7 linked regions of the Homo sapiens genome follow. The protein of the gene in region 4 interacts with the protein of the main gene of each other region in a biochemical or structural test. Each region holds a gene or a part of one and is shown on either strand. Other genes may lie near its edges. The genes, in order: RPS3, BMAL1, HDAC2, CSNK2A1, SUGT1, EEF1D and SSB.

Region 1 (2,445 bases), on a different chromosome or scaffold from region 4:
CAAACGCTTACCAGAATGTGGGATACAAGTATTAACAGAAAGACTCGGAAGGACCCTATTATGCCCCAAGAGGCCCCTGCCCTTGCAGACATACCTGTTATGCTGTGGGGACTGGCTGGGGCATGGCAGGCGGCTCTGGCTTCCCACCCTTCTGTTCTGAGATGGGGGTGGTGGGCAGTATCTCATCTTTGGGTTCCACAATGCTCACGTGGTCAGGCAGGGGCTTCTTAGGGCCAATCTTACCAGTTGGGTCCCAGGGCAGCATGATCTTCACCTTGATGCCCAGCACACCTAGAGGACACCACAGTTGTTAGCACACAGCTGGGGTCTCAAAGGCCCCCATCACACAAGACCAAAGAGAGCAAGCAGTTTACTCAAGCACCCCTGGGTCTGGACCCTTCTCAGACAAATGCCTCTAAATCGATCAATAAATAGGACACTTCTGCCAAAGGAACTCGTGCACAGCACCACAGAACATGGCACTGACAAGGACCAAGAGCAGGACGTGACCTTTCTGACTCGTCATCGTGTCATCACTGAAGGGTACACAGATGGCTAAAACAAGGACAAACCAACTCTTGGATCTGACAGATCTCAGCAAATCGATTCTTACAGATCAACGTGGCAATCGATACACCAAGGAATATGAACATGCCCAGCTACTTCCATGATAAACTCCCCCAAATACTTAAGATGTCTGTGGAAAACCAAATCTGTCCACAAATGCCCTTTGCCAAGCACTCTCAGCTGCTCACCCTGTCTGAGCAACACGTGGCGCACAGCAGTGTCAACGTAGTAGTTAACAGGGTCTCCGCTGTGGATCATCAGGCCATCCACAAACTTCATGGATTTAGCCCTCTGTCCTCGGAGTTTCCCAGACACCACAACCTCGCAGCCTTTGGCCCCACTCTCCATGATGAACCGCAGCACACCATAGCAGGCCCTTTAAAAGAACAGAAGAGAGCCACTGTGTTATTGCCAAGGACCTCCACCAAGTTTAAAAAACAAAACAAAGACTTGGTTTTCAATGTTCCTTTAATGGAGAATAATTTGACCAGAGTCCGGCCCCAAGAATACCAATTCTCTTCCACACCTATCATTCCGAACCTTAGGGTAATATTCATCAAGTATGTCAAGCTCCTAAATATGTACTTTCCAACCCTGGCTGCATACTGGAATCACCTCAGAAGGCTAAAATAAAAAACAAAAGAAACCCTGACATCTAGGCCCTACTCTAGGCCAATTAAATGTGCAAAGTCCAGGAATATCTATTTAAAAATGCTCCCTGGGTGATTCTCATGTATAACCAAAACTGAGAACCACATTTACACTCCACAATTACCCACTTTGTGGTCCCTTGAAATACTCTGCAACCTCCGAAGTCTCATTCACTAGGAAAGCTTACCCACCTAGGATCCTGGCTATCTTGCTATTAGAACGCTGATAAAACACTTTAAAATATGACCTACCCCCCAACTCATTCGGCAGTTTACGCTCTGCGAGATACTAACTGGAGAGCTAGCCACCTCCAGGCCCTTTCACATTATCTTACTTAATATTCCACAACTGAGAGGTGGTATAATGGTCCACCTTAGAAGATAACAGATCCCAGGCTGAGAGGTTCATTAACTTGCTTCAATGTGTGCAAACAGCATGTGGAGGGGTTATTAAGACAGATTGCTGAGTCACACATCCAGTTTCCCATTTGGTGGGTCTGGGGCTGGCATTAATCTTGAGAACCATTGTTCTAAGCAGCCTAGCTGGCACTCAAACCAGGTAAGCCGTCTTTTCTATGTCCTTACCTAGAGCCTTGCCTACACTACCCATCCCTACCAGTCAACCTTCCTACAGCACAGCTTTCCTGTCATTCCTCTAGGCAAGGCATTTCAGTGCCTTTACATACAGTCAAACTGCACAAAGAACTTCCTGTTGAAATCTTACCAGTAGACCCTCACATTACTACTATCTGCATGCAACTCAGAGGTTAAGTGTCTAGATTTTAAGCTATTTTGCATCAGGTCTATCTTATCTCTTCACAATACCATCTTAAGAGTGAACACACTAAGCAGATTTGAATGATTGCTACTAAAGTTTCATGGTATCCTAACTAGTACTAAGGCACTTCTACCTAGGGATACGTAACACACCCAGTAACAGGCCTAATTATTCCTCATTGCCCACTGCCCCGCCCCCCGCAACAGGGCTCTTTGTAAAGCCTTCTCAAGAAGACCAACAGGAGTTGGTCCCCTCCTTGGACAGTTCTATTTGTGTTTAACTCCCAAAGCACCCAGAACACTTCTCCATTACAGGACTGACCACCCTTTACAGTTCTTGCTGCTTTAGTAGTCTTGTTAGCCTGCCAGTTCAGTGAGGGCATGACTTAGTATCTTATTATAACCCTGGGAGACTAGCAGATCCTGTAACTTTGTAACAGTTCATCTGCTA
Region 2 (3,500 bases), on a different chromosome or scaffold from region 4:
CCTCTGTGCCTGTGTACGTCATCAGCCTTTATACATTCTAGTCCCTCAGCCACTGCTCATCCTTCTTGATCCACCTCCTCTACTGGTTTTTTGGGGGAGCCTTCCTCTCCCTAGGAAGAGTTAGATATTCCTTCCTTGGTGTATGTAATGAATGTCCATGGTATAACTGGCCCTACTTAAGCATTCTGACACTGGATGACAGTTTGTTTCTCTTTCCGTCTGCCCCTTTCATTAGATGCTTACTTCTGGAGAGTGAAGCCTTGATTTTTTTTTATTTTTTGACTCCCTACCTACATCCCATCCCACCATCGGCCGTGTACACCTCCATGGCCCAAACCTAGTGCTGACACTAACCACGAACTTTGCTTTCTAGCAGATCGAAAAAGCTTCTGCACAATCCACAGCACAGGCTATTTGAAAAGCTGGCCACCCACAAAGATGGGGCTGGATGAAGACAACGAACCAGACAATGAGGGGTGTAACCTCAGCTGCCTCGTCGCAATTGGACGACTGCATTCTCATGTAGTTCCACAACCAGTGAACGGGGAAATCAGGGTGAAATCTATGGAATATGTTTCTCGGCACGCGATAGATGGAAAGTTTGTTTTTGTAGACCAGAGGTAAGAGTCTACATACTACCCTTGAGCAATGATGGTAGAGGATTTTCAACCCTGATCTAAAAAGCAGAGAAGACTGGGCCATCAGCTGGCTTTTCTAAGAATGAAGAAAGAAAGAAAAAGCTGGGTGCAGTGGCTCACACCTCAAATCCCAGCACTTTTTGAGGCCAAGGTGGGTGGATCACTTGAGCCCAGGAGTTTGAGACTAGCCTGGGCAACGTGGCAAAACCCTGTCTCAACTAAAAATACAAAAATTAGCCAGGCATGGTGACACATACCTGTAGTCCCATCTACTCTGGAGGCTGAAGCAGGAGGATCAGCTGAGCCTCGGGAGGTCAAGGCTGCAGTGAGCTGTGATTGCACCACTGCACTTCCGCCTGGGCAACAGAGTGAGACCCTGTTTCAAAAAAAAAGAGACAAATGATGAGAGTCTCTGTTAAAAAATGAGATTCAATAGGATATCATCATAAATACAGAGATTTTTCTGTCATTCTTTGGCATATAGAGACAATTAAGTGGGGTGCCTTGATGTCCATGGCTAAAAGAAAAACAGTAGGGATAGCATGCTGTCTGAATCTATGGAATGTTCCAGAACCATTATTGTGATTGAAATTCTTTTGAATCTAGGACTTGGAAGCAATTATTTAGTCCTGAGCTGTCCAATAAAATACTCGTTGGCCATGGTAGCCTCCCATGTGGCTAACGGCACAGACATAGAACATTTCCATCATCACAGAAAGTCTTGTTGGACAGCGTTGATCTAATCCAACCTCCTTATTTTATGGATGAAGAACAGAGGCCAGCCTGGGGACTGGTCTCCTGTAGGATTCACAATTAATTGGTAATAGACCTGGACCAAGGACCCAGGTGTCCCAAATTTACTGCTGCCTACTGCTTTCCCTCAGAATATGCACAGGCTAATAATTTTTCTGGCTACTAGAGACAGCCACAACATGCTGGAAAAAGAGACAGCCTCAGCTGTCTTGTGGCCTCAGCTGCTGCAGCTTCTGGCATTTGGTTGTCCTGATAAAAAGGAGGCAGCAAAAACTAGAAGCCTTGCACTGAGGTTTAGATTTATACCACATTTTAATCTAATTAATGTGGTTCCTTTTTTAAAGACAGATCTCAGTCTGTCACCCAGGCTAGATCTAGTGCAGTGGCGAGATCTTGGCTTACTGTAGCCTTGACCTCCCGGGCTCAAGCAGTCCTCCCACCTCAGCCTCCCAGGTAGCTGTGACCATAGGCATGTGCCACCATACCCAGCTCATTGTTCTGTGTTTTTGGTAAAGACAGGGTTTCACCATGTTGCCCAAGCTAATCTTGAATTCCTGAGCTCAGACAATCTGCCCAACTCGGCCTCCCAAAGTGCTGGGATGACAGGCATGAACCACCATGCCCGACTGGTTGCAATTTTTAAAGCCCCCTCAGATTTGATTTCTTGTGATAATAGTCCCTTTACAAAGGCTTTGCTCTGTTTCCCTCTATTTTTATAGCCTTGATTAAATTCAGATGCCTGAAAAAAAGAGAGAAAGATCCACACAGTGAGCCCTCTGAAAATCCATCCAGCTCTTTTGCCTGCAGCTTTGACCTTGCTCTCATAGGCTGTAGCAGGGTTTATCCATTGCAAAGTTGCAATTAATCATCTGAATGGCTTTTTCTTCTTTAAATATTCCTTTATTCCCTTTTAGGGCAACAGCTATTTTGGCATATTTACCACAAGAACTTCTAGGCACATCGTGTTATGAATATTTTCACCAAGATGACATAGGACATCTTGCAGAATGTCATAGGCAAGGTAAGCTAGGATGTATGAAAGATCTTAAGTTGAAAGTGTCCCCTTGCTTCTAGACTAGTCAACATGACCTTCCAGGGAAATCTGTCCACTGAGGATGTAGAGTCAGCCAGCCTAGGACTCTTCAGGTCAGAACATCTGTGTGAAGAGGAAGCTGATACCTGCAGGCACTGTTTATCCCCCTTGTAGTTGCCCTGTGCTGACTGCATGGCAGTTTCTGAAAGACATCTCTTGTTCAGAGGGTTTTCCCAGACCCTGTAAAGATTTAGTATGGCCCAGACTGATCTGATTCTCTTTTCCATTCAAGCCTGCACTACCTCCTGTGTTTTCTGTCTTGACTAATGCTGTGGCTTCATGTGCAGGCTCCTGAGAGAGACCAACATTGACCCCTTCTTTCACTGTGTCTCCACCAGATCCTGTTCATTCACCTCAGACATGCATTTCCAAAAGTCTACTTTTTACCACCTCTGCCATCACCCTGGTTCAGGCCCTCGTGCCTACTTAGAGACCTGTGATAGACTTCTCAGGGTTTCTCTGATCCCTCTCACCCCCAGTTCATCTTCCATAGTTATCCTATTTATCCCCAGATAGATTGAGCCTGGTAACATCAGCCTGCTTAAAAACCTCCTGCTTTAGACTCAAGCCCAAATGCTTTTGACAGGCAATCAAATGTGAGACCTTCCACCTTCTGGCCCCAGCCCACCTCCTCAGTTTCAGTCCCCATCCCTGCCTGCAGAGGCCTGTGCTCCAGGCACACTGACCTCACTGGCCTCTCCCCAACCAGACCCTGCTGCTCCTCAGGCACTGCTGGGTTCTTCCCTCCCTCCTTCTCTTGGCAAACTCGTGTTCATCCCTCAAGGCTCTGATCTCTTCTCCCTGTATAGCCTTCCCTCACTACTCTTCTTGAGGGCAGGAGTCATAGCCTGTCTCCTCTTGTATCTCCAGTGCCTGGCACATGAGAAGGGCTCATTACATGTTACATGAAAGAATGAGGTTGAATAGGTGAGTAGCCTCTGTTGATTTGGATGTTCTTAGAAATGAGATAAGTTCTATATTGCCCTTGGGCTTTGTGATTGAGATAAAGCATGACA
Region 3 (3,500 bases), on a different chromosome or scaffold from region 4:
TTGCTTTCAAAATGATGCTCATGTTCTCATTCACTAAGTGATTAAAGTTAACATCATCAGTAATGAGAGAAATTGAAATCATGCATTACCTGACTGGGTGCACTGAGAACACAGCATCATTCCTGTGATATTCTTGCCCAAAACATGCAACCTATATCTAACCATGAAGAAACATCAGACATGCCCACTGAGATATTCTACAAGGCCAGAGGGTTAAGTGACTTTCCAAATTTCACAGGACTTGTTGATGGCAGAACTGGAATAGGATTCAGTTATTCTGACTCCTGGACCTGAGATTCGATCCTATCCCATCCCATCTTATCCCATCTCCTTCTGTCCTCTTCAATCCTCTTCTATCCCCTTCCATTCCCCTTCCCACTTCTATTTCCATTCCAGTCCATTCTATTCCCATTCCATTTCACTCAAATTCCATTCCATTCCACAAATAATAATTGAGGCTTTATTTATGTGTTAGGCACTGTTCTAGACACTGGAGATTAATCCCCAGTGGAGTGTAAGACAAACAAAACCCTTGCCCTTATGAAACTCTTAATCCAGTGAAAGTAAGCAGAATGGTGGCTGCTCCTTGTCTGACATTCTTTGTGTGTGTGTATGTATATTATATAATATACATACACACACATATATACACATGTATATATATATATGTGTGTGTATACATATATATAGAAGGAATTCTCTTTCTTTTATCCCTTATTCCAATCCTGTTATTATTAAGGATTATATTTAACTTTACATGTTCAAATTAGTATAGTTCCTGTCTCCTGACTGAACGCTGATGCAGGGAAACTCTGGTCTCTGACTTTGATTTTTTTTTAATAGTAATGTTTGGTACAATCAACTGACTTAAAACTTTAAAAAACTGAATTTCTACGGGTAAATGTTTAAATATGAGAAAAAAGTTGACTTTAGAATGTCTAATAAGCCTATCCTATTCAACAACCAAGAAATAGATTTCATACCTATTACACATAAAGATATAAAGGCATATTTTGGACTTTAAAGAGCTTGCAGGACAGGAAAGGCAAAAACATTTTATCCTGAATGCCAACTATCTGGGTTAATGACTATCTGGGTTGATACGCATCTCAAGGCCAGAAAGGAATGATCAATTTGTGACATCAGACAGGTAAAAGACGGAGTGCTGGAAAAGCATGTCAGCTGTTACCTAGTCAGTTTCATAGATTTAGTAAACTGAAGCACAGAAATTTAAATGACTTGCCCAAAGCAAAGTTGTGTAATGTAAAGGCTGGTGCTAGACCCATATATGTGATTTCCAGTGCATTGTTCTTTACTTGTTGCTGCTCTAGATGATGATGGTGTTTTGAGGTCAGGTCGGAAGTACAAACAATTTAAGATGAGGCTTGTTTACCTTACCTATAGGGGTCCAGATGTGTTTTTCTGGGAAATCAGATTTATTGCCCACCATAGTCACAAACAGACTGGAAATAAGATAGATTTACAGAATTTTCTGCCTAACTCTAGAAATAGGATGGCAGAAGAGTCATTACATTAAGAAAGCCCAATGCTGCCATTTACTTTAAGACATATAAATTTGGATTTCAAACAAAACAGCTTACAAAAGGGTGTTTGGCATCAAAAGGGAATAGCACAGGAATTATACCTAAGTCCATTACATATAACACTGAACTATACAAGTAAATGTGTTTGACAATAACAATGCTTATTTGATTGTTGGGGAAGGTGACAGCTAGTAATACGTTGGACTTGAATTATATTTTTTCCTGGAAAATGGTATCTAGAGTAAATTTTTCGCACCTACTTGCCCAAACTTTCTTATCAGATGCTGAGTTGAAAAGAACATACCTAGATTCTACGGAAATTAGAAATCTAGCCTTTTTAAGAATATAACTTTGGAAATACTGGTGAATGGTAGATCTCCCATCCTCATGCTTGGAGGGCTATTATCTACCACAGGGCCACACAACAGTGCCCTCTTAAGCCCCTTAATTTCACCTAGTCTAGCCAAAGGCAACACAAGTTCAAACTTTCCGGCTAGACTTCAGAATAAGAAAATTTTTGAAGTGCATTTCTCACTTAAGGACATAGCATATTTAAAAAATAAGAGCAAAAGGGGAAATTCTTGTCTTTTTAAATCAAACATTATTTGTTGCCAGAAGTGTAATGACTTTTTGTTGGTATTTGTTAAGTACAGCCAGTTTTGATAATGTGCTCTCTTTTACTTTAGGAATTGCCTGTCCGTACTTTCCTTTAAAAGTTTTACCTGTACATCATCCTAGTAAGTATATGGCAAGGGCAGGGAAGTGACCCTGGATGTTTATTTCTGAAGAAACAAAAAAGATGACTAGTAGAGGATACAAGAGAAGCTGGAAGCTACTGATTTATCAATAGAATAAAAAATCCACAACACAAAAACAGATTAGAGTCTTCTTTGTTCAACTCACTCCTAAATACAAACCACTGGCTGCAAAATGGGTCTGGCCAAAAAAAATCTCCTATTCAGAATCCTGCTACTCATTTTACCTTAGAAATAATTATACATTTCTTTAACATTTAGAGTAAAAACAATCTTAATAAAAAGAGCAAATAACAGAATCTAATCAAGGTGTCTTCTGTCCTTAACTGTTTGTTCTACTAAAAAAGAATTTTTCATTAATAATCCTAATCATAACTCTGCAGTGTTCAAAGACCAAAGGGGTTAGGTACTTAGTTCAGTAAACAAAAGTCGTGGAACAAGCACCCAATGCCCCTGAATATTAACTTCACTATAACTATAATTCCTAGAAATAAATTTCAATTCTTTCCCATTCTGTATACTAACTGATTCTTACCACCAGTCAAAACAGAAAATTATTCTGGCTCTAATATTCAGTTCCATTTTGTCTGACTAGCAAAGTCACAATTAGTCAATGACTACCAGATACACTCTACTGTGTTTTGCAGATGTAAAACTTAGAAATTAGTGTTATAATTCTTATAGGAAAACCTAAATCAGTAAACTTAATTGTAGTTTAATTCAAAGTTTTTAATCCAATATTGCATTCAAAAAGAATCTGTTAATACATGTTGCTCTGCTTGTTACATGGCCACCAAGTGACTATAAGAGAAAACACACAGAAAAAAAAATTTTAAATGCAGTATCTGCCATCTTGTGGTACAGTGAGGAAATGCAGCAATTGAGAAGCTTCTAAATGCTGTAATCCTAAACATTTCTCCGCATTGCTCATGTAAATAGCCAATAATAACAATATGATAGTTCTATTTTTTCTGTAATCTACTTAATGCCATTTTTCTTGAGATTATCCTTGAGTAAATTACAGAGGCATCAAGATCCCCCCAAAGTTGTCAAATATTATTCGTATCCTTGCTAAAATCAGGTCTCCAAAAGATTGCTTCTCTATCCACTATGACCTAGTAGTCTTCACACTAGTAGGCATCAAACTGCAATAAAAGGCTCAGATACAACCCATCTGGCATCTAAAGGAACACTCAAAAAT
Region 4 (3,500 bases):
CACCACCCCAGCTAATTTTTCTTGTATTTTTAGTAGAGACTGGGTTTCACTGTGTTAGCCAGGATGGTCTCGATCTCCTGCCCTCGTGAGCCACCACGCCCGGCCTTTTGTTTGTTTTCTGAGGCAGGGTTTTGCTCTGTTGCCCAGGCTGGAGTGCAATGCCATGATCATAGCTGACTGCAGCCCCGAACTTCTGGGCTCAAGTGATCCTTCCAGCTTAGCCTCCTGAGTAGCTGGGACTACAGGCGTGCACTACCACACCCAGCTAATTTTTAATTTTTTTGTGTGTAGAGAGAAAGTCTCACTATGTTGCCCAGGCTGATCTCAAACTCCTGGGCACAACCCATCCTCACACCTTGGCTCCCCAAAGTGCTGAGATTACAGGCATGAGCCACCATGCCCATCCTGTAACTAAGTTTAACCAATCTTCAGAGTAAATTCAAGAATGTTTTCTTGTTCTTCTGAATTGTATACTAAATAAAAAGGTCTTCTCCCCAGCTCCCCCAAAAAGCCTTCTTTCTCCTCACAGAAAAAGGAGAAAGGAACCAAATTAATAATAGATTTGCCAAGTGTTTAAAAATCTGAAGTTTTCTTGGGAGTATCTTTTATGCCCAGTCTTTCCAGGTTATTATCAGTTGATTTTAAAAGTTTCAGACTTTTTGTTCTTGTAGGAATTTCTTTCTTGGGGTCTTAAGGCTATAGCCCTGAGTTCAAAAAGCATTTTATGCATAAAAATAGTTTTTACAGTATTACTAATAATTGTGAAAAACAGAACACTGTCCTATTATAGGAAAATTAAAGATTGAATTCTGAAACATTTATGTAATAAAATACTAATGATACACATTAGATGGTCTCCATGGGCTAACAATTTGGAGGTTTTTTTTTTTTTTTTTTCATGTAAGTGAAGAAAACAATTCAAAATAGTATGTATATTAGCTGAGCATAGTGGTGTATGCCTGTAATCCTACCTACTCAGGAGGCCTAAGCCCAGGAGTTGGAGGCTGCAGTGAGCTATGATCACGCCACTACACTCCAGCCTGGGCAACAGAGCAAGACCCTGTGTCTTTAAAAAAAAAAAAAAAAGAGCCAGGCACAGTGGCTCACGCCTATAATCCCAGCACTTGGAAAGGCCAAGGCAAGTGGATCACAAGGTCAGGAGCTCAAGACCAGCCTGGCCAAGATGGTGAAACCCTGTCTCTACTAAAAATACAAAAAAATTAGCCAGGCGCGGTGGTGGGCGCTTGTAATCCCAGCTACTCAGGAGGCTGAGGCAGAGAATTGCTTGAACCTGGGAAGCTGAGTTGCAATGAGCCAAGATCACACCCCTGCAGCCTGGGCGACAGAGCAAGACTCTGTCTCAAAAAAAAAAAAAAAAAGTAAAAATTGTTTTAAAACCGAGTGAAAGATGCATAAAAGAAAAAACTAAAAAAAAAACTAAAAAAAAAAAAAAAAGAAAAAACTAGCCAGGCACGGTGGGTCATGCCTGTAATCCTAGCACTTTGGGAACCTGAGGCGAGCAGATCATGAGGTCAGGAGTTTGAGACCACTGGCCAACGTAGTGAAACCCCGTCTCTACTAAAAATACAAAATTAGCCAGGCATGGTGGCACGCGCCTGTAGTCCCAGCTAGTCAGGAGGCTGAGGCAGGAGAATTGCTTGAACCCGGGAGGCGGAGGTTGTGGTGAGCCAAGATTGCGCCACTGCACTCCAGCATGGGCAGCAGAGTGAGACTCTGTCTCCAAAAAAAAAAAAAAGAAAGACTAAAAAGAAATATATGAAGATGTTATTAGTGTTTTGATTTTGAGTCAGTGGAGTGATTTTTTTTTAATTTTAAAAATTAATTTTTTATTTTGAAGTGACAAGCCTGAGGATTCACAGATAATAACAGTGAGTTTACTTTTATGCAGATGTACGATTATAGTTTGGATATGTGGAGTTTGGGTTGTATGCTGGCAAGTATGATCTTTCGGAAGGAGCCATTTTTCCATGGACATGACAATTATGATCAGGTAATATATGTTATACCCATTGAAAAATGTACTGGCCTAATGCAATGATAGCCAGCACTGCCTGTAACTTTCAGTTCACTGTTTATTCAGCCACCCCGATATTGATCCTTAGATTGATGTTTCGGGAGCTACCAGCTTAGCCTTTTGAAATCAGACATTCCCCCCTAGTCTTTGTCATTTGCATTGCTTATTTTATTGTGAAGAATACATATAAATTGTCATCCAGATTTTTAAAATAGGACATTACCTTAGAATTCTCCTAATAAACCCTTATCTCCAATATGGTGTTTTCTCCAATATGTGAGCCCATATGTGGTATTTCTGTGATCCTTTTGGCTCTTTATATGGGTTGAGTTACAGATGTTTCTTAAACTAACTCCACTTCCCCCTTGAAGATCAAAGGGCTCTTTCATTCACAAGAACCTGGAATGATTCTAGGACCTTGTGGAAGGTACCATTGTCTTGTTCCCTTTGAGCACCATGTCCAATTTTAATGAGTCAAAGAATACAACCTGAATTCCATTAAAGTCAATAACTCTGTATCAAGTGCATGCAGTACTGAGGAATACAGAAAAAAGAAAGAATAGTTTTCTTCCCCTCAGATAGTTCATAGCTGATCTTGTAAGGGAGTCAAACATACAACAAAATAGGTTACAGTCATAACTTCAGAGTAGAAATGTGGACAAGGCACAAAAGGCAGTAGTGGTGAGTAGTTTGAGTGTGCAATGGGAGCTTCCCAAAAGAAGTGACATCTTCAATTGGGTTTTGAGGGGAGAAAAATAAGGGTTCACCAGGGTGACATTTCAAGAGGAAGAAACCAGTTTATAAAGTAGTTTGCTTTTTCTAACACTATCACATTGAGTTGAAGTCTAAACTGTTAGGAGGTAGCATTCATACCTGTAGACATGATGACCCGTTTATGTAAATTCAATCATTGTTAATTGTTGATTTGTTAATATAATATGCTTGTGATATGGGTTTTTGTCTTTCTTTAATACTAGTTGGTGAGGATAGCCAAGGTTCTGGGGACAGAAGATTTATATGACTATATTGACAAATACAACATTGAATTAGATCCACGTTTCAATGATATCTTGGGCAGGTAAGTCATGAAACAAAATATGTGCATCTGTGGCTTAAGCACTTTGAGAGTGAACTGGCACTTAGGATCTTCAAAATAGTTATGTTTTCTTTGCCAGCACTGTCAGGATGTCAGTGGTCCAGTGCCACAGGATGCTGCATTGAGCAGGCCTCTGATAAAGGCATTGGATTGAATGGCCCTTTATTCAAATTAACTTACAGGAGTCTGATGGAGGGGTTATAGCTAGAGGATTCCTACAAAATGAATGTAGATTCTAGTAGAAGGGTTACAGTTGAGGCAAAAATCAAAATTTACCTTGCTTCTTTAAGTGAAAAACCTCTCTCCAAGAGAAAGAAATTGAAGTAGAAAATGCATGCTTTAAGACTGATGTGCAGGCTGGGCACGGTG
Region 5 (3,500 bases), on a different chromosome or scaffold from region 4:
TCAAAGATTTTATCATTTATTTCCCTTAAGACATAATTAAGAAAACTTCTTTCAATTTGCTTCCCCCCAAATAGTTTAAGAGTTAGTAATCTAACAAGATTTTGTGTGTGCACATATATATATATATGGTATATAAAATACAGAGATTCCAGGGTCAGGACAAGAAAAATAATAATTCTTTAGGACACATCCTTAGAATCTAAGTTCTCCAATTCAAAACTTAGAAAAACCTAAGCAAAGATGCACTAGTTTGGTTGGCAATCAGAAGTGTATCTACGTCTCCTAGGCCAGGCTGAAGAATTTAGTTAACTAGGTAAACTTGGGGAAAGTATTTAAACTCCATTAACATGATTGTTTTTCCACCTGCAAAACTAAGAATAAACATTCTCTGCCAATGTCATGGGACTAAAACCAAAATCCAATTTTAATTCATTCACTGAACTAAGCACCCACTGTGCAATGTATGTGGTGAGGGCTGCCAAGTTTAGCAAATAAAATTATAGCATGAAACATATTTACATAATAAAAATTATTCATTGTTTATCTTAAATAGAAACTTAAATGAACATCTTGTAACTTTATCTGGGGACCCTAACTGGGGCACATACAAAGATACAAATAAAACATGCTTCTTATCCTCAAAGACTTACACAGAAACGAGGGACATGAAATGTATACATAAACTACTATATAAGGAAGAAAAGTCGTCACTTAGCATTTAAAGAGGAAGGGGCAGAAAAGGCAAACTGAGAACATAGTAGTATGGTTGAAGAATGGTTAAAATTAACAAATCCAAGACTCAAAAGAGAAAAAAGAATTGAGATAAGAGTGCTTAATTACATCCTCAACTCTAGCCACACATCTATGTATTTACCACACATGATATTCTTCCACTATAGGAGGTGGCTCAGTAATACAAGTTCTTAAGTCATTTATCATTAATTCACACTCAATTTAAATAACTCCAAATGGACATGCATTAACAATCTTTTTTTTTTTTTTTTTGAGACAGAGTCTCACTCTGTTGCCCAGGCTGGAGTGCAACGTAGTGATCTCAGCTCACTTGCATTAGCAATCTCGATAGACATATACCAAAAAAAGTCAAATTCATTATTTTATGAACTATATCCCTCTCAAATCTACCTATTTTGTGCTTGATTACTAAAAATTCTTTTATTAAACAAATTCTATACTATGTGGATAGGACCAGTGAGAGACCAAAATCCTGGTAAGATTTCATCCCTTTCCTCACTTTCTATTGTCCCAAGCAGCTATTTCAAAAATCTGCCTCATAATTAACCAGCTTTGTTCTTGACAATCTTCAAATAAGTAGGCAGATCCTTTTTAACTGGATGCAAAAAACTACTTCACTTTACACTTTCTTCTCCAACCCTCTGCAGCTGTGTCCTTTCTGCAGGCCCAATTATCATTCTTCACAACACAGGCCAACCCCGATCCTGTTCCACAACAGGAAACTTCACATGTCCTTAGAGCTTCAACCTAATAAATACTAACACAGTATGCTGCAGGACCTATGTATAAAAAAAGGAGTAATAGGCCAGGTGCAGTGGCTCACACCTGTAATCCCAGCAGTTTGGGAGGCCAAGGTGGGCAGATCACGTGGTCAGGAGATCAAGACCATCCTGGCCAATATGGTGAAACCCCATCTCTACAAAAATACAAAAATTAGCTGGGCGTGGCAGTACATGACTGTAATCCCAGCTACTCAGGAGGCTGAGGCAGGAGAATCACTTGAACCTGATTCAAGAAGGCGGAGGTTGCAGTGAGCTGAGATCACAGCACTGCACTCCACCCTGGCAACAGAGCTAGACTACATCTCAAAAACAAGGAAAAAAAAAAAAAGTAGTAATGGAAAAAGCCTACCTACATCATTTATTCCCATTAACTCATTTATCATATACCTTCACACAATTCTACAGCTGAAAGGACTCCAGAGTTCATTTGGTCCACAGCCCTCCTTTCAAAGGTGCTGAAAATTCAGTCTTATAGTCATTTTGTGCCTAGACTAAATACACAGGGCAAGCAAAGATCCAGAGTCAGATTTTTAAATTTTCAGTTTTTTTCCTACTAAATTACACTATTATCTACATCTTTTGAGTGATACTCTCTGAATATTAATTCTGTTGTATATCTCTACTTCTTTTAGAAACTATAAAGGAATCTAAAAATTACTCAAACTATAATTTACTCATTGTTCCCTCATAATAGAGTAATCTAAAATTCAGTTTAAAAAAAAAAGTCAGGAGTTGGAGACCTGCCTGGCCAATATGGTGAAACCCCATCTCTACTAAAAATACAAAAATTAAGCAGGGCGTGGTGGTGCATGCCTGTAGTCCCAGCTACTTGGGAGGCTGAAGCAGGAGAATCACTTGGATCCAGGAGGCAGAGGTTGCAGTGAGCCGAGATCACGCCACTGCACTCCAGCCTGGGCAACAAAGCAAGACTCCGTCTCAACAACAACAACAAAAAAAACAAAAGGCAGATTCATCTTTCTTGTAGTTTGTATTTTTAACTGCATGAGGTAGGGTGACAAAAGTATTTGTACATCAAAACAGACAAAACTGACAAGTTCAAGGGAAGAGACATTGTCAGTATCAAATCTTAAAGACAGGCTGATTATTGTATCTTTTTAAAAAAACCCCTTTATTGAAAAACATTATATCTGTCTTAGTAAATACACAAATGCCACACACTCTAAGTGGATTTTTATTCTTTACTGTACTAGAATTTGAGAGGTAAAATAACCCTTATACTCAAAAGTTATCATTCTTATTTTCTTGTCCCTGTTAAAGGGCTGAAAGAATCTACAAGCTTATAAACACATGGGTGATTAGTTCACCAGTATTTCTATAATTTTGAAAATATTACTAGTAACAAACTTTTCAATGGTCTTACCTTTGTTGAAAGTACTTTAAACGTGCTCTGTTCTGGTATTATAGGATGAAGAAGTTCCAGTTTCAAATTGTAATCCTCTCCAGAAGGAAGTTTAACCAAAGCAGACAACTAATGAACACAAAATTAGCATCACATTTTGTAAATGTATATAATGGAGGGTAAAAAACCTACACAAAATAATGACAAATCTTCAATAATGTTACAAATTATTTTAAACATTATATATGGAATTTTAGATTTAAGAACCTCAAAAGGTTCTCAAAGATTTAAGAACCTTTTTTTTCCATCTGGTATCCTTGACATGAATTCTTATAGACATCATTAAACAGCAGAAAAGAATAAGTTTCATAATATTTGTCATATATTTAATCACACCTATTTGATATTTAGATTTCAAGAAAACATACAAAAGCAAAATGATATATAACAAAAAGTGATCCATGTGCAAAACATACAGTTCTATCACTACCTCTTTTAAATAATCTATTATAAGGTTCTCTACTAAATGGTAAGAAATCAAGTTGTTAAAAGTCATACTCAAGAGGCTGGGCACGGTGGTGCATGCCTCTAATCCCAGCACTTTG
Region 6 (3,500 bases), on a different chromosome or scaffold from region 4:
CACTCAGCCTCCCTCTCCCCTCCCTCGCTCCTGCTGCCTAGTGTGGGCCCTTGTGATGACAGTGGGCCCACCTGGGTGATCCAGCATCCTCTCTGCCGCTTAACTTAATCTTATCACATCTACAGAATCCCTTTGCCATGGGAGACCATATTTACAGGCTCTGCGGACTCGTATGTGGCTTTGTGGGGGCCATTGTTCTGTCTGCCACAGCCACAGCCACCTAGGGGTGTGCTGGCTCCCGGGCCATAAGCTGGGCATCCCTGGGTGGGTGGGCCCAGGAAGGGCTGCCACTCCTGTCTGCCAGGTGGGGTGCTCCTTTGTGCCTTGCGTTCTGCCCACTGGCTTGCACCCCTGGCTTGCCCAGGCACCTGACCAAGTCCAGGCTAGGCAGACATGAGATTAAGGGAGCACAGATTTTTGCGCCCAAGTCAGGCATATTGCACTCCAGTGCCCAGAAGGCAGCGGTCGGGGGCTTGGCCCTGGGGCTGCAGGAACTCTTCAGCCCTGGCTGTGTGGAGTCAACCCTAAGGTGTCTCTGGGACAGGCAGGTGGTCGCACTGTTAGGGCTTAGGGACTGGTTTGCTGCTATAACAAAGGTCCATAGACTGGGTGACTTAAACCACATGTATTTTCTCACAGCTCTGGAGGCTGGAAGTCCATGATCGAGGTGGCAGCAAGGCTGGTTTCTCCTGAGGCCTCTCTCAGCATGTAGACCGTCTTCTCCATGTCTTCACACGGTCATCCATCTGAGTGTGTGTGTGTCCTGATGTCTTCTTATTGGACACCAGTCAGATTGGATTAGCCCCCTGCCCCTCAGTGACAGTTACCTCTGCAAAGGCCCTGTCTCCAAATAAGGTCACATCCTAAGATACCGGGGGATAAGACTCCAGCATGTGGATTTGGAAGGACATTATTCAGCCCATGGCAGGGGCCCAGTCTCATCTTGGATTTGGGGTGGGAGTGCTCAGCAGACACTGGGGTTTCAGAACTGCAGGGTTTCTGGTAGCGTGGTGCTGGCACAGGGTTACAGGCATGGGTCTGGCTCTGAAGTGTTTGCCTTTGGCATCCCCCAAGTCCCTGAGGGGCTCTCTGAGGCCCGCTGTGACTGCACTGGGTGACCTGAGCCTGCCCGTTGAAGCTGTGCTCAGGGATTCTGATGCCTGGCATCCCTAGTCCCCCCTGAGTCAGCATCAAAGGAGGGGACTCTCCCTGTGTCCTGAGTGCTGTGGGCTCTGGCCTAGTGGCCCGCAGAGCCAGGCAGTGGTGAGACGGCCCCCGCTGCTCATCATGCAGCCCGGGGCCAGTGCTGACTTAGTGCCTCTTCCAGAGGGGACCTTTTCCCTGTCCTTGGGCCTGCTGTGTGGGGTGCATGAGGCCTCAGGTGCCACTCACAGACTCCGGCCTCCTCAGGACCCAGCCCCACTCCCGCGGGAGGTCTGCTGTGATTCTCCATGCCCCCTGGCGCCCCAAAGCCTGGCCCTCCCGTGCTCCGGCTTCTGCCCCCGAGTTTGTCAGTTTCTGCCGGTGCCTCCCGTACCCCCACCACCATTCACGCGCCTCTGCCAGCCTGGCCTTTCCCTGTCCATTTCCTCCTGGCCTTGCTGCCAGGTGGGCCTCCTGGGCCAGTTTGGCTCGGCCTTGCCCATGATCTGCGGGGCTTAGCTCCCACACCCTCCAGATACATAAACAAGCATTCCCCACAGCATGGTCCCAAGGACGGTGGCAGGAGGGCCCCAGGGATGGGTTTGCACGTTGGGCAAAGGCCTGAGTATGTCCGCACCTGCTGCAAGGAGCGGCTTTGCCTGCCCGGCTACTCCAGGCCCCTCCCCACAGAGAGGGAGCCCCGGGGAGCTGCCGAGATGGGGTTTGCTGAGAGCTCCATGCAGCCAGGTGCACCCTGTCCTTCGAGCCATCCTGTTGGAGGGTGGGCAGGCTAAATGGCCCATGCGTGCAGGTAGATGCTTAAGGACTGGCTAGTGTTAAGGGCCAGGAGGCTGGGATCCTGTCTGGGCCCCGAGGTATCAGTCTCAGCTATGGCAGAGTATGAGGTGGGCTTGGGGCCCTGGATCACCTAGAGACTGGCTTGCTGAGTGAGATGGCAGGCGTGAGGCCCAGGGAGACAAAGCTTTGGGTGGCTGCTGTCCACACAGGTGGGCTCCTTCCTTCTTCCCCCACTGGGCCCTCAGCTGCTCCCGCCTCCCATTTCCAGTGCTGCCTGGTCCCCTGAGGCGTGTCCCAGGTTGTCCCTAGGACTGTGAGTCCTTCAGCACCTCCCACCCAGCCTCTGAGCCTGGCTGCTCAGCAGGATTCCGCCGGGCAGCAGCAGCCATGGCCCAGCTCCCCACAGCCTCCGTCTCTGGGGCACCAAGAGCCTCCTGTCCTGGACTTTGCCTGGCTGAGAATTTCACTGTGGTCTGTGGTGGCCGCCACCTCTGAGGTCATAAGTTTGAGCTGGGCATCAGCGGGGGGCACCTCCTGCTCTCCCGAGCTGTAGTTTTCCTTCCGTGAGTTCCTGCAGTCCTGAGCATGGCAGGGGGACCCTAGGAGCAGGCTGGGCACTGAGCCCTCCCCTCCTCCTGCCTTGCAGAGCTCAGGCCCCGGGGCCTCCAGCGGCACCAGCGGAGACCACGGTGAGCTCGTCGTCCGGATTGCCAGTCTGGAAGTGGAGAACCAGAGTCTGCGTGGCGGTGAGGCCCCGGGCCAGTGGGTTGGGGCTGTCCCTGGCCCCTGCCATCTAACCGTGCTCCCCTTGCCCCCCCAGTGGTACAGGAGCTGCAGCAGGCCATCTCCAAGCTGGAGGCCCGGCTGAACGTGCTGGAGAAGAGCTCGCCTGGCCACCGGGCCACGGCCCCACAGACCCAGGTGAATGCTCTCCCCACGCCTGACACTGCAGGGGACCACGTGGCCCTGCTGGCTTCCACGTCGCCCTGTGGGCTGGCCCCAGCAGCAGTGATGAGCTGGCAGCCAGGATACTGGAGTCCTCAGGTCCCCAGGAAGGTTTACAGTTAGCCCTGGGCAGGTGGAGGCAGTTTTTGTCTTTCCTGGGGCCCTGCATGTACACAGCTGCGGTACACAGGGGCTGCCCTTCCTCCAGTCAAAGGAGGGAGGAGGGCCAGGAGGTGGCCAGGCAGCTCTGGGCCCTGGTTGGGGCGTCTCAGCCGTGCCTCCTGTCCCTTCCCCTGTGGCAGCACGTATCTCCCATGCGCCAAGTGGAGCCCCCAGCCAAGAAGCCAGCCACACCAGCAGAGGATGACGAGGATGATGACATTGACCTGTTTGGCAGTGACAATGAGGAGGAGGACAAGGAGGCGGCACAGCTGCGGGAGGAGCGGCTACGGCAGTACGCGGAGAAGAAGGCCAAGAAGCCTGCACTGGTGGCCAAGTCCTCCATCCTGCTGGATGTCAAGCCTGTGAGTGGGCGGGGTGGGGCTTCAGGGGGCCAGGCACTGCCCTGGTGCCCGCCTAGCCGGCTCAGCCTGTGACCCTCCCCCTGCCCTCTG
Region 7 (3,500 bases), on a different chromosome or scaffold from region 4:
AACTTATGTATTTTTAAATAACAGAACTTGGTACTGTAGAGTAATGTCAGGATTGGAGTCCATATTATACAGTGTTCTGAAATACATTGTAATTATCTCACAGTATTATTTTGGCGACTTCAATTTGCCACGGGACAAGTTTCTAAAGGAACAGATAAAACTGGATGAAGGCTGGGTACCTTTGGAGATAATGATAAAATTCAACAGGTAACAAGCTTTTAAAAATAATCTTTAGGTTTTCTGTTTACAATGAGTGCTACTGCTGAGTCTTATGTTTTTATATGTACTCTTCAGGTTGAACCGTCTAACAACAGACTTTAATGTAATTGTGGAAGCATTGAGCAAATCCAAGGCAGAACTCATGGAAATCAGTGAAGATAAAACTAAAATCAGAAGGTCTCCAAGCAAACCCCTACCTGAAGTGACTGATGAGTATAAAAATGATGTAAAAAACAGATCTGTTTATATTGTAAGTGGGCCTGTAATGCATTTAAATATCTTACATTTATTTAGAAAGTAAAGTACGGAAGAATAAGGGCTCAGGAATCACAGCCTCACTAATTACTGTATGTCCTTTCGTAATATTCTTAACCTAAGTTTCTTTTGTTTTGTTTTGTTTTGAGACAGTCTCATCCTGTTGCTCACGTTGGAGTGCAGTGGTGTGATCATGGCCCACTGCAGTCTTGACCTCCTGGGCTCAAGTGATCCTCCCACCTCAGCCTCCTGAGTAGCTGGGACTACAGGTGCATGCTACCATGCCTGGCAAAAAATTTTTTGTAGAGACGGGTCTTCCTGTGTTGCCCAGGCTGGTGTCAATCTCCTGGGCTCAAGTGATCCAATCACCTTGACCTCCCAAAGTGCTGGGATTACAGGTGTGAGCCACCATGCCTAGTCCTAAGTTTTATCTTCATAAACGTGGATATTTTCTACCTTGTAGAACTGTTGTGAGAATTAAATGAAAAAAAATATATATACCATTGGATGAAATCTTTGACATATTCTAAGCACCTATTGCCTATTAGCTGTTCTTATTTATCAGCAGCTAAACTTGATTGCAGTTTTCTTTAGTGTATTTTTAAATAGTTTTTTATTACGGAAAATTTCAGATACATATATAAATAGATTCAATAATGTACCATCACCAGCTTTAGTAGTTAATAACAGAACATGCAAATCATCTTGTTTTATTTCTGCTTCAACTGAATTATTTTGAAGCAAATACCAGATGAATCACTTTTATTGTACTGGAGAGTAGTGGCTCCTAAACAAGGCTGTTAAGTGATTAACAAAGAGAAATAGAGATAGATAGGTATATCCTGGGTTCATTTCAAGAAAAAATGAATCAAATTCTCTCCAATTGTTTATCTGAGAAGTCATTATTTGTTATTTGTACATTTCTTCCCACTCTTCACAGAAAGGCTTCCCAACTGATGCAACTCTTGATGACATAAAAGAATGGTTAGAAGATAAAGGTCAAGTACTAAATATTCAGATGAGAAGAACATTGCATAAAGCATTTAAGGTATGATAATACAGACTTTTTCTAGTTTTAAAATATATGGGACATAACTTAAAAAAATATTTTCCTTCCTTTTTACAGGGATCAATTTTTGTTGTGTTTGATAGCATTGAATCTGCTAAGAAATTTGTAGAGACCCCTGGCCAGAAGTACAAAGAAACAGACCTGCTAATACTTTTCAAGTAAGTCTTTTTGCTGATGTTTCTCCTGGCCTTTTACTTATATGGACACACACTAGGGTAAGGAGCATGGAAGTAGTATCCCCTGAAAGGCCAATATTCTTAGTATCTTTAGATGACCTTTGAGAAATGCTTGATATTTGTTCAGTGAGAACTATAGTCTTTTGAGACTATAAGAAAAGTGTTCATTAGTACCTTTTCACTGTTAACAATTTTTTTTTCTTTTTCTTTTTTTTTTGAGACAAGTTTCACTCTTGTCACCCAGGCTGGAGTGCAGTGGTGTGATCTTGGCTCCCTGCAACCTCTGCTTCCTGGGTTCAAGCGATTCTCCTGCCTCAGCCTCCTGAGTAGCTGGGACTACAGGCGCGTGCCACCTCGTCCACCTAATTTTTGTATTTTTAGTAGAGATGGAGTTTCACCATGTTGGCCAGGCTGGTCTTGAACTCCTGACTTCAGATCATCCGCCTGCCTTGGCCTCCCAAAGTGTTGGGACTACAGGCGTGAGCCACTGCGCCCAGCCACTGTTAGCCATTATTAAAGGAGGTTATGTTTTAATACTGATTTTGCATCTAAAACTTTTGATCAGGCTGGGTATTAAAATTTGGTCTTTTGTGTGTTTGGAAAATATATCAATGCAGTTTTCATCTTATTTTTCATAGCCTATATGTCTTTTTTTTTTTTTTTTTTTTTTTACAGTACAAAGGATTTGAGATTTGGGTCACATTCTTTGTGAATGTGTGTCTGTCTAAGTGTCTAAAAATGGGGATGAACCAGAGCATTTTCATGATAAAATTAGGTGTAGGGCCATAGTTCCCTACTTTAGAAGACTGTGCATTAGTCTTCTAAATGGTATATACTAAACTTGATTGACTTAGAGATGCACTGTGATGGGTCATAGTATCAGTGTTAAATCCTCAAAAATTATTTAACATGATTTTCATATGTTATTGTTGGATCTTGGGGATTTTAGAATTTTCTCCTTTTGTGGAATTAACACTATAGAAAACTGCAATATTATTTGCATGACTTCTGATACACTTTTTTCCCTATACATGAATGATAAATGGAAATCAACATGAAATTGCTAATGGATAGGGGGTTTCTTTTTGGGGTCATGAAAATGTTCTGAAATTAGTAGTGATGGTTGTACAACTGAATATACTAAAAAACATTCAAGGTACACTTTAAAAGAGTGAATTTTGTGGCACATGGATTTTTTCCTCAGTAAAGCTGTTATATAAAAAAACATGAGAGAGTAAATTCCTTGGCATATTTTGAATTTTTAGTTGATGATTATGTTGATAGTAAGCGTGTGCAACATTCATTGCTGTGCCATGTCTTAAGTTATTCAAAATAATCTGCAGTCTTAACTTTGTTCTCGTGAACTTAGCCTCTGTACTGTGTGTTCTTTAGGGACGATTACTTTGCCAAAAAAAATGAAGAAAGAAAACAAAATAAAGTGGAAGCTAAATTAAGAGCTAAACAGTAAGTATGTTGAACTAATCACGACATAATTTGAATTCCTTAAAGCTCTGACAGAAATATAGCTGGTGAGCTCTGAAATAGTGGCAGTAGACCTTTCTCTTTGCTAGTGAAACACTGAGATCTTAAGCTGCCTTGACAATCTCAGGGCCAAATTGCATTGCAGTCTAGCATTGGACGATCAAAAAAACCTAAGGACTTCTGGCTTTGGTTAAGTAAGTTTAGTGATCATGATTGGTTAACTTTATTAGGACTTAATTTTCTTATATAGTAAATAGAAGTATGTTATAATTATATTTTTATTTGTAGGGAGCAAGAAG

Evidence for each region.
Region 1: of the proteins of CSNK2A1 (region 4) and RPS3, one has a biochemical effect on the other in vitro, tested with the Homo sapiens proteins (2 studies listed by BioGRID and IntAct).
Region 2: of the proteins of CSNK2A1 (region 4) and BMAL1, one has a biochemical effect on the other in vitro, tested with the Homo sapiens proteins (one study listed by BioGRID).
Region 3: of the proteins of CSNK2A1 (region 4) and HDAC2, one has a biochemical effect on the other in vitro, tested with the Homo sapiens proteins (3 studies listed by BioGRID and IntAct).
Region 5: of the proteins of CSNK2A1 (region 4) and SUGT1, one has a biochemical effect on the other in vitro, tested with the Homo sapiens proteins (2 studies listed by BioGRID).
Region 6: of the proteins of CSNK2A1 (region 4) and EEF1D, one has a biochemical effect on the other in vitro, tested with the Homo sapiens proteins (2 studies listed by BioGRID and IntAct).
Region 7: of the proteins of CSNK2A1 (region 4) and SSB, one has a biochemical effect on the other in vitro, tested with the Homo sapiens proteins (2 studies listed by BioGRID and IntAct).

What each region holds. Positions count from the first base shown.
Region 1 is NC_000011.10:75,402,518-75,404,962, reverse strand, and holds part of RPS3 (small ribosomal subunit protein uS3), read right to left. Parts: intron 944-2,445; coding exon 756-943; intron 543-755; exon of another isoform or gene 397-542; intron 292-396; coding exon 98-291; 3' UTR 95-97; intron 1-94. UniProt on the Homo sapiens protein: Component of the small ribosomal subunit. The ribosome is a large ribonucleoprotein complex responsible for the synthesis of proteins in the cell. Has endonuclease activity and plays a role in repair of damaged DNA.
Region 2 is NC_000011.10:13,371,790-13,375,289, forward strand, and holds part of BMAL1 (basic helix-loop-helix ARNT-like protein 1), read left to right. Parts: intron 1-373; coding exon 374-620; intron 621-2,305; coding exon 2,306-2,412; intron 2,413-3,500. UniProt on the Homo sapiens protein: Transcriptional activator which forms a core component of the circadian clock.
Region 3 is NC_000006.12:113,933,149-113,936,648, forward strand, and holds part of HDAC2 (histone deacetylase 2), read right to left. Parts: 3' UTR 1-3,500. UniProt on the Homo sapiens protein: Histone deacetylase that catalyzes the deacetylation of lysine residues on the N-terminal part of the core histones (H2A, H2B, H3 and H4).
Region 4 is NC_000020.11:488,291-491,790, reverse strand, and holds part of CSNK2A1 (casein kinase II subunit alpha), read left to right. Parts: intron 1-1,909; coding exon 1,910-2,011; intron 2,012-3,012; coding exon 3,013-3,113; intron 3,114-3,500. UniProt on the Homo sapiens protein: Catalytic subunit of a constitutively active serine/threonine-protein kinase complex that phosphorylates a large number of substrates containing acidic residues C-terminal to the phosphorylated serine or threonine.
Region 5 is NC_000013.11:52,666,336-52,669,835, reverse strand, and holds part of SUGT1 (protein SGT1 homolog), read right to left. Parts: intron 3,025-3,500; coding exon 2,917-3,024; intron 1-2,916. UniProt on the Homo sapiens protein: May play a role in ubiquitination and subsequent proteasomal degradation of target proteins.
Region 6 is NC_000008.11:143,580,416-143,583,915, reverse strand, and holds part of EEF1D (elongation factor 1-delta), read left to right. Parts: intron 1-2,587; coding exon 2,588-2,687; intron 2,688-2,761; coding exon 2,762-2,862; intron 2,863-3,188; coding exon 3,189-3,410; intron 3,411-3,500.
Region 7 is NC_000002.12:169,805,371-169,808,870, forward strand, and holds part of SSB (lupus La protein), read left to right. Parts: intron 1-103; coding exon 104-207; intron 208-294; coding exon 295-469; intron 470-1,414; coding exon 1,415-1,522; intron 1,523-1,600; coding exon 1,601-1,701; intron 1,702-3,111; coding exon 3,112-3,183; intron 3,184-3,489; coding exon 3,490-3,500. UniProt on the Homo sapiens protein: Binds to the 3' poly(U) terminus of nascent RNA polymerase III transcripts, protecting them from exonuclease digestion and facilitating their folding and maturation.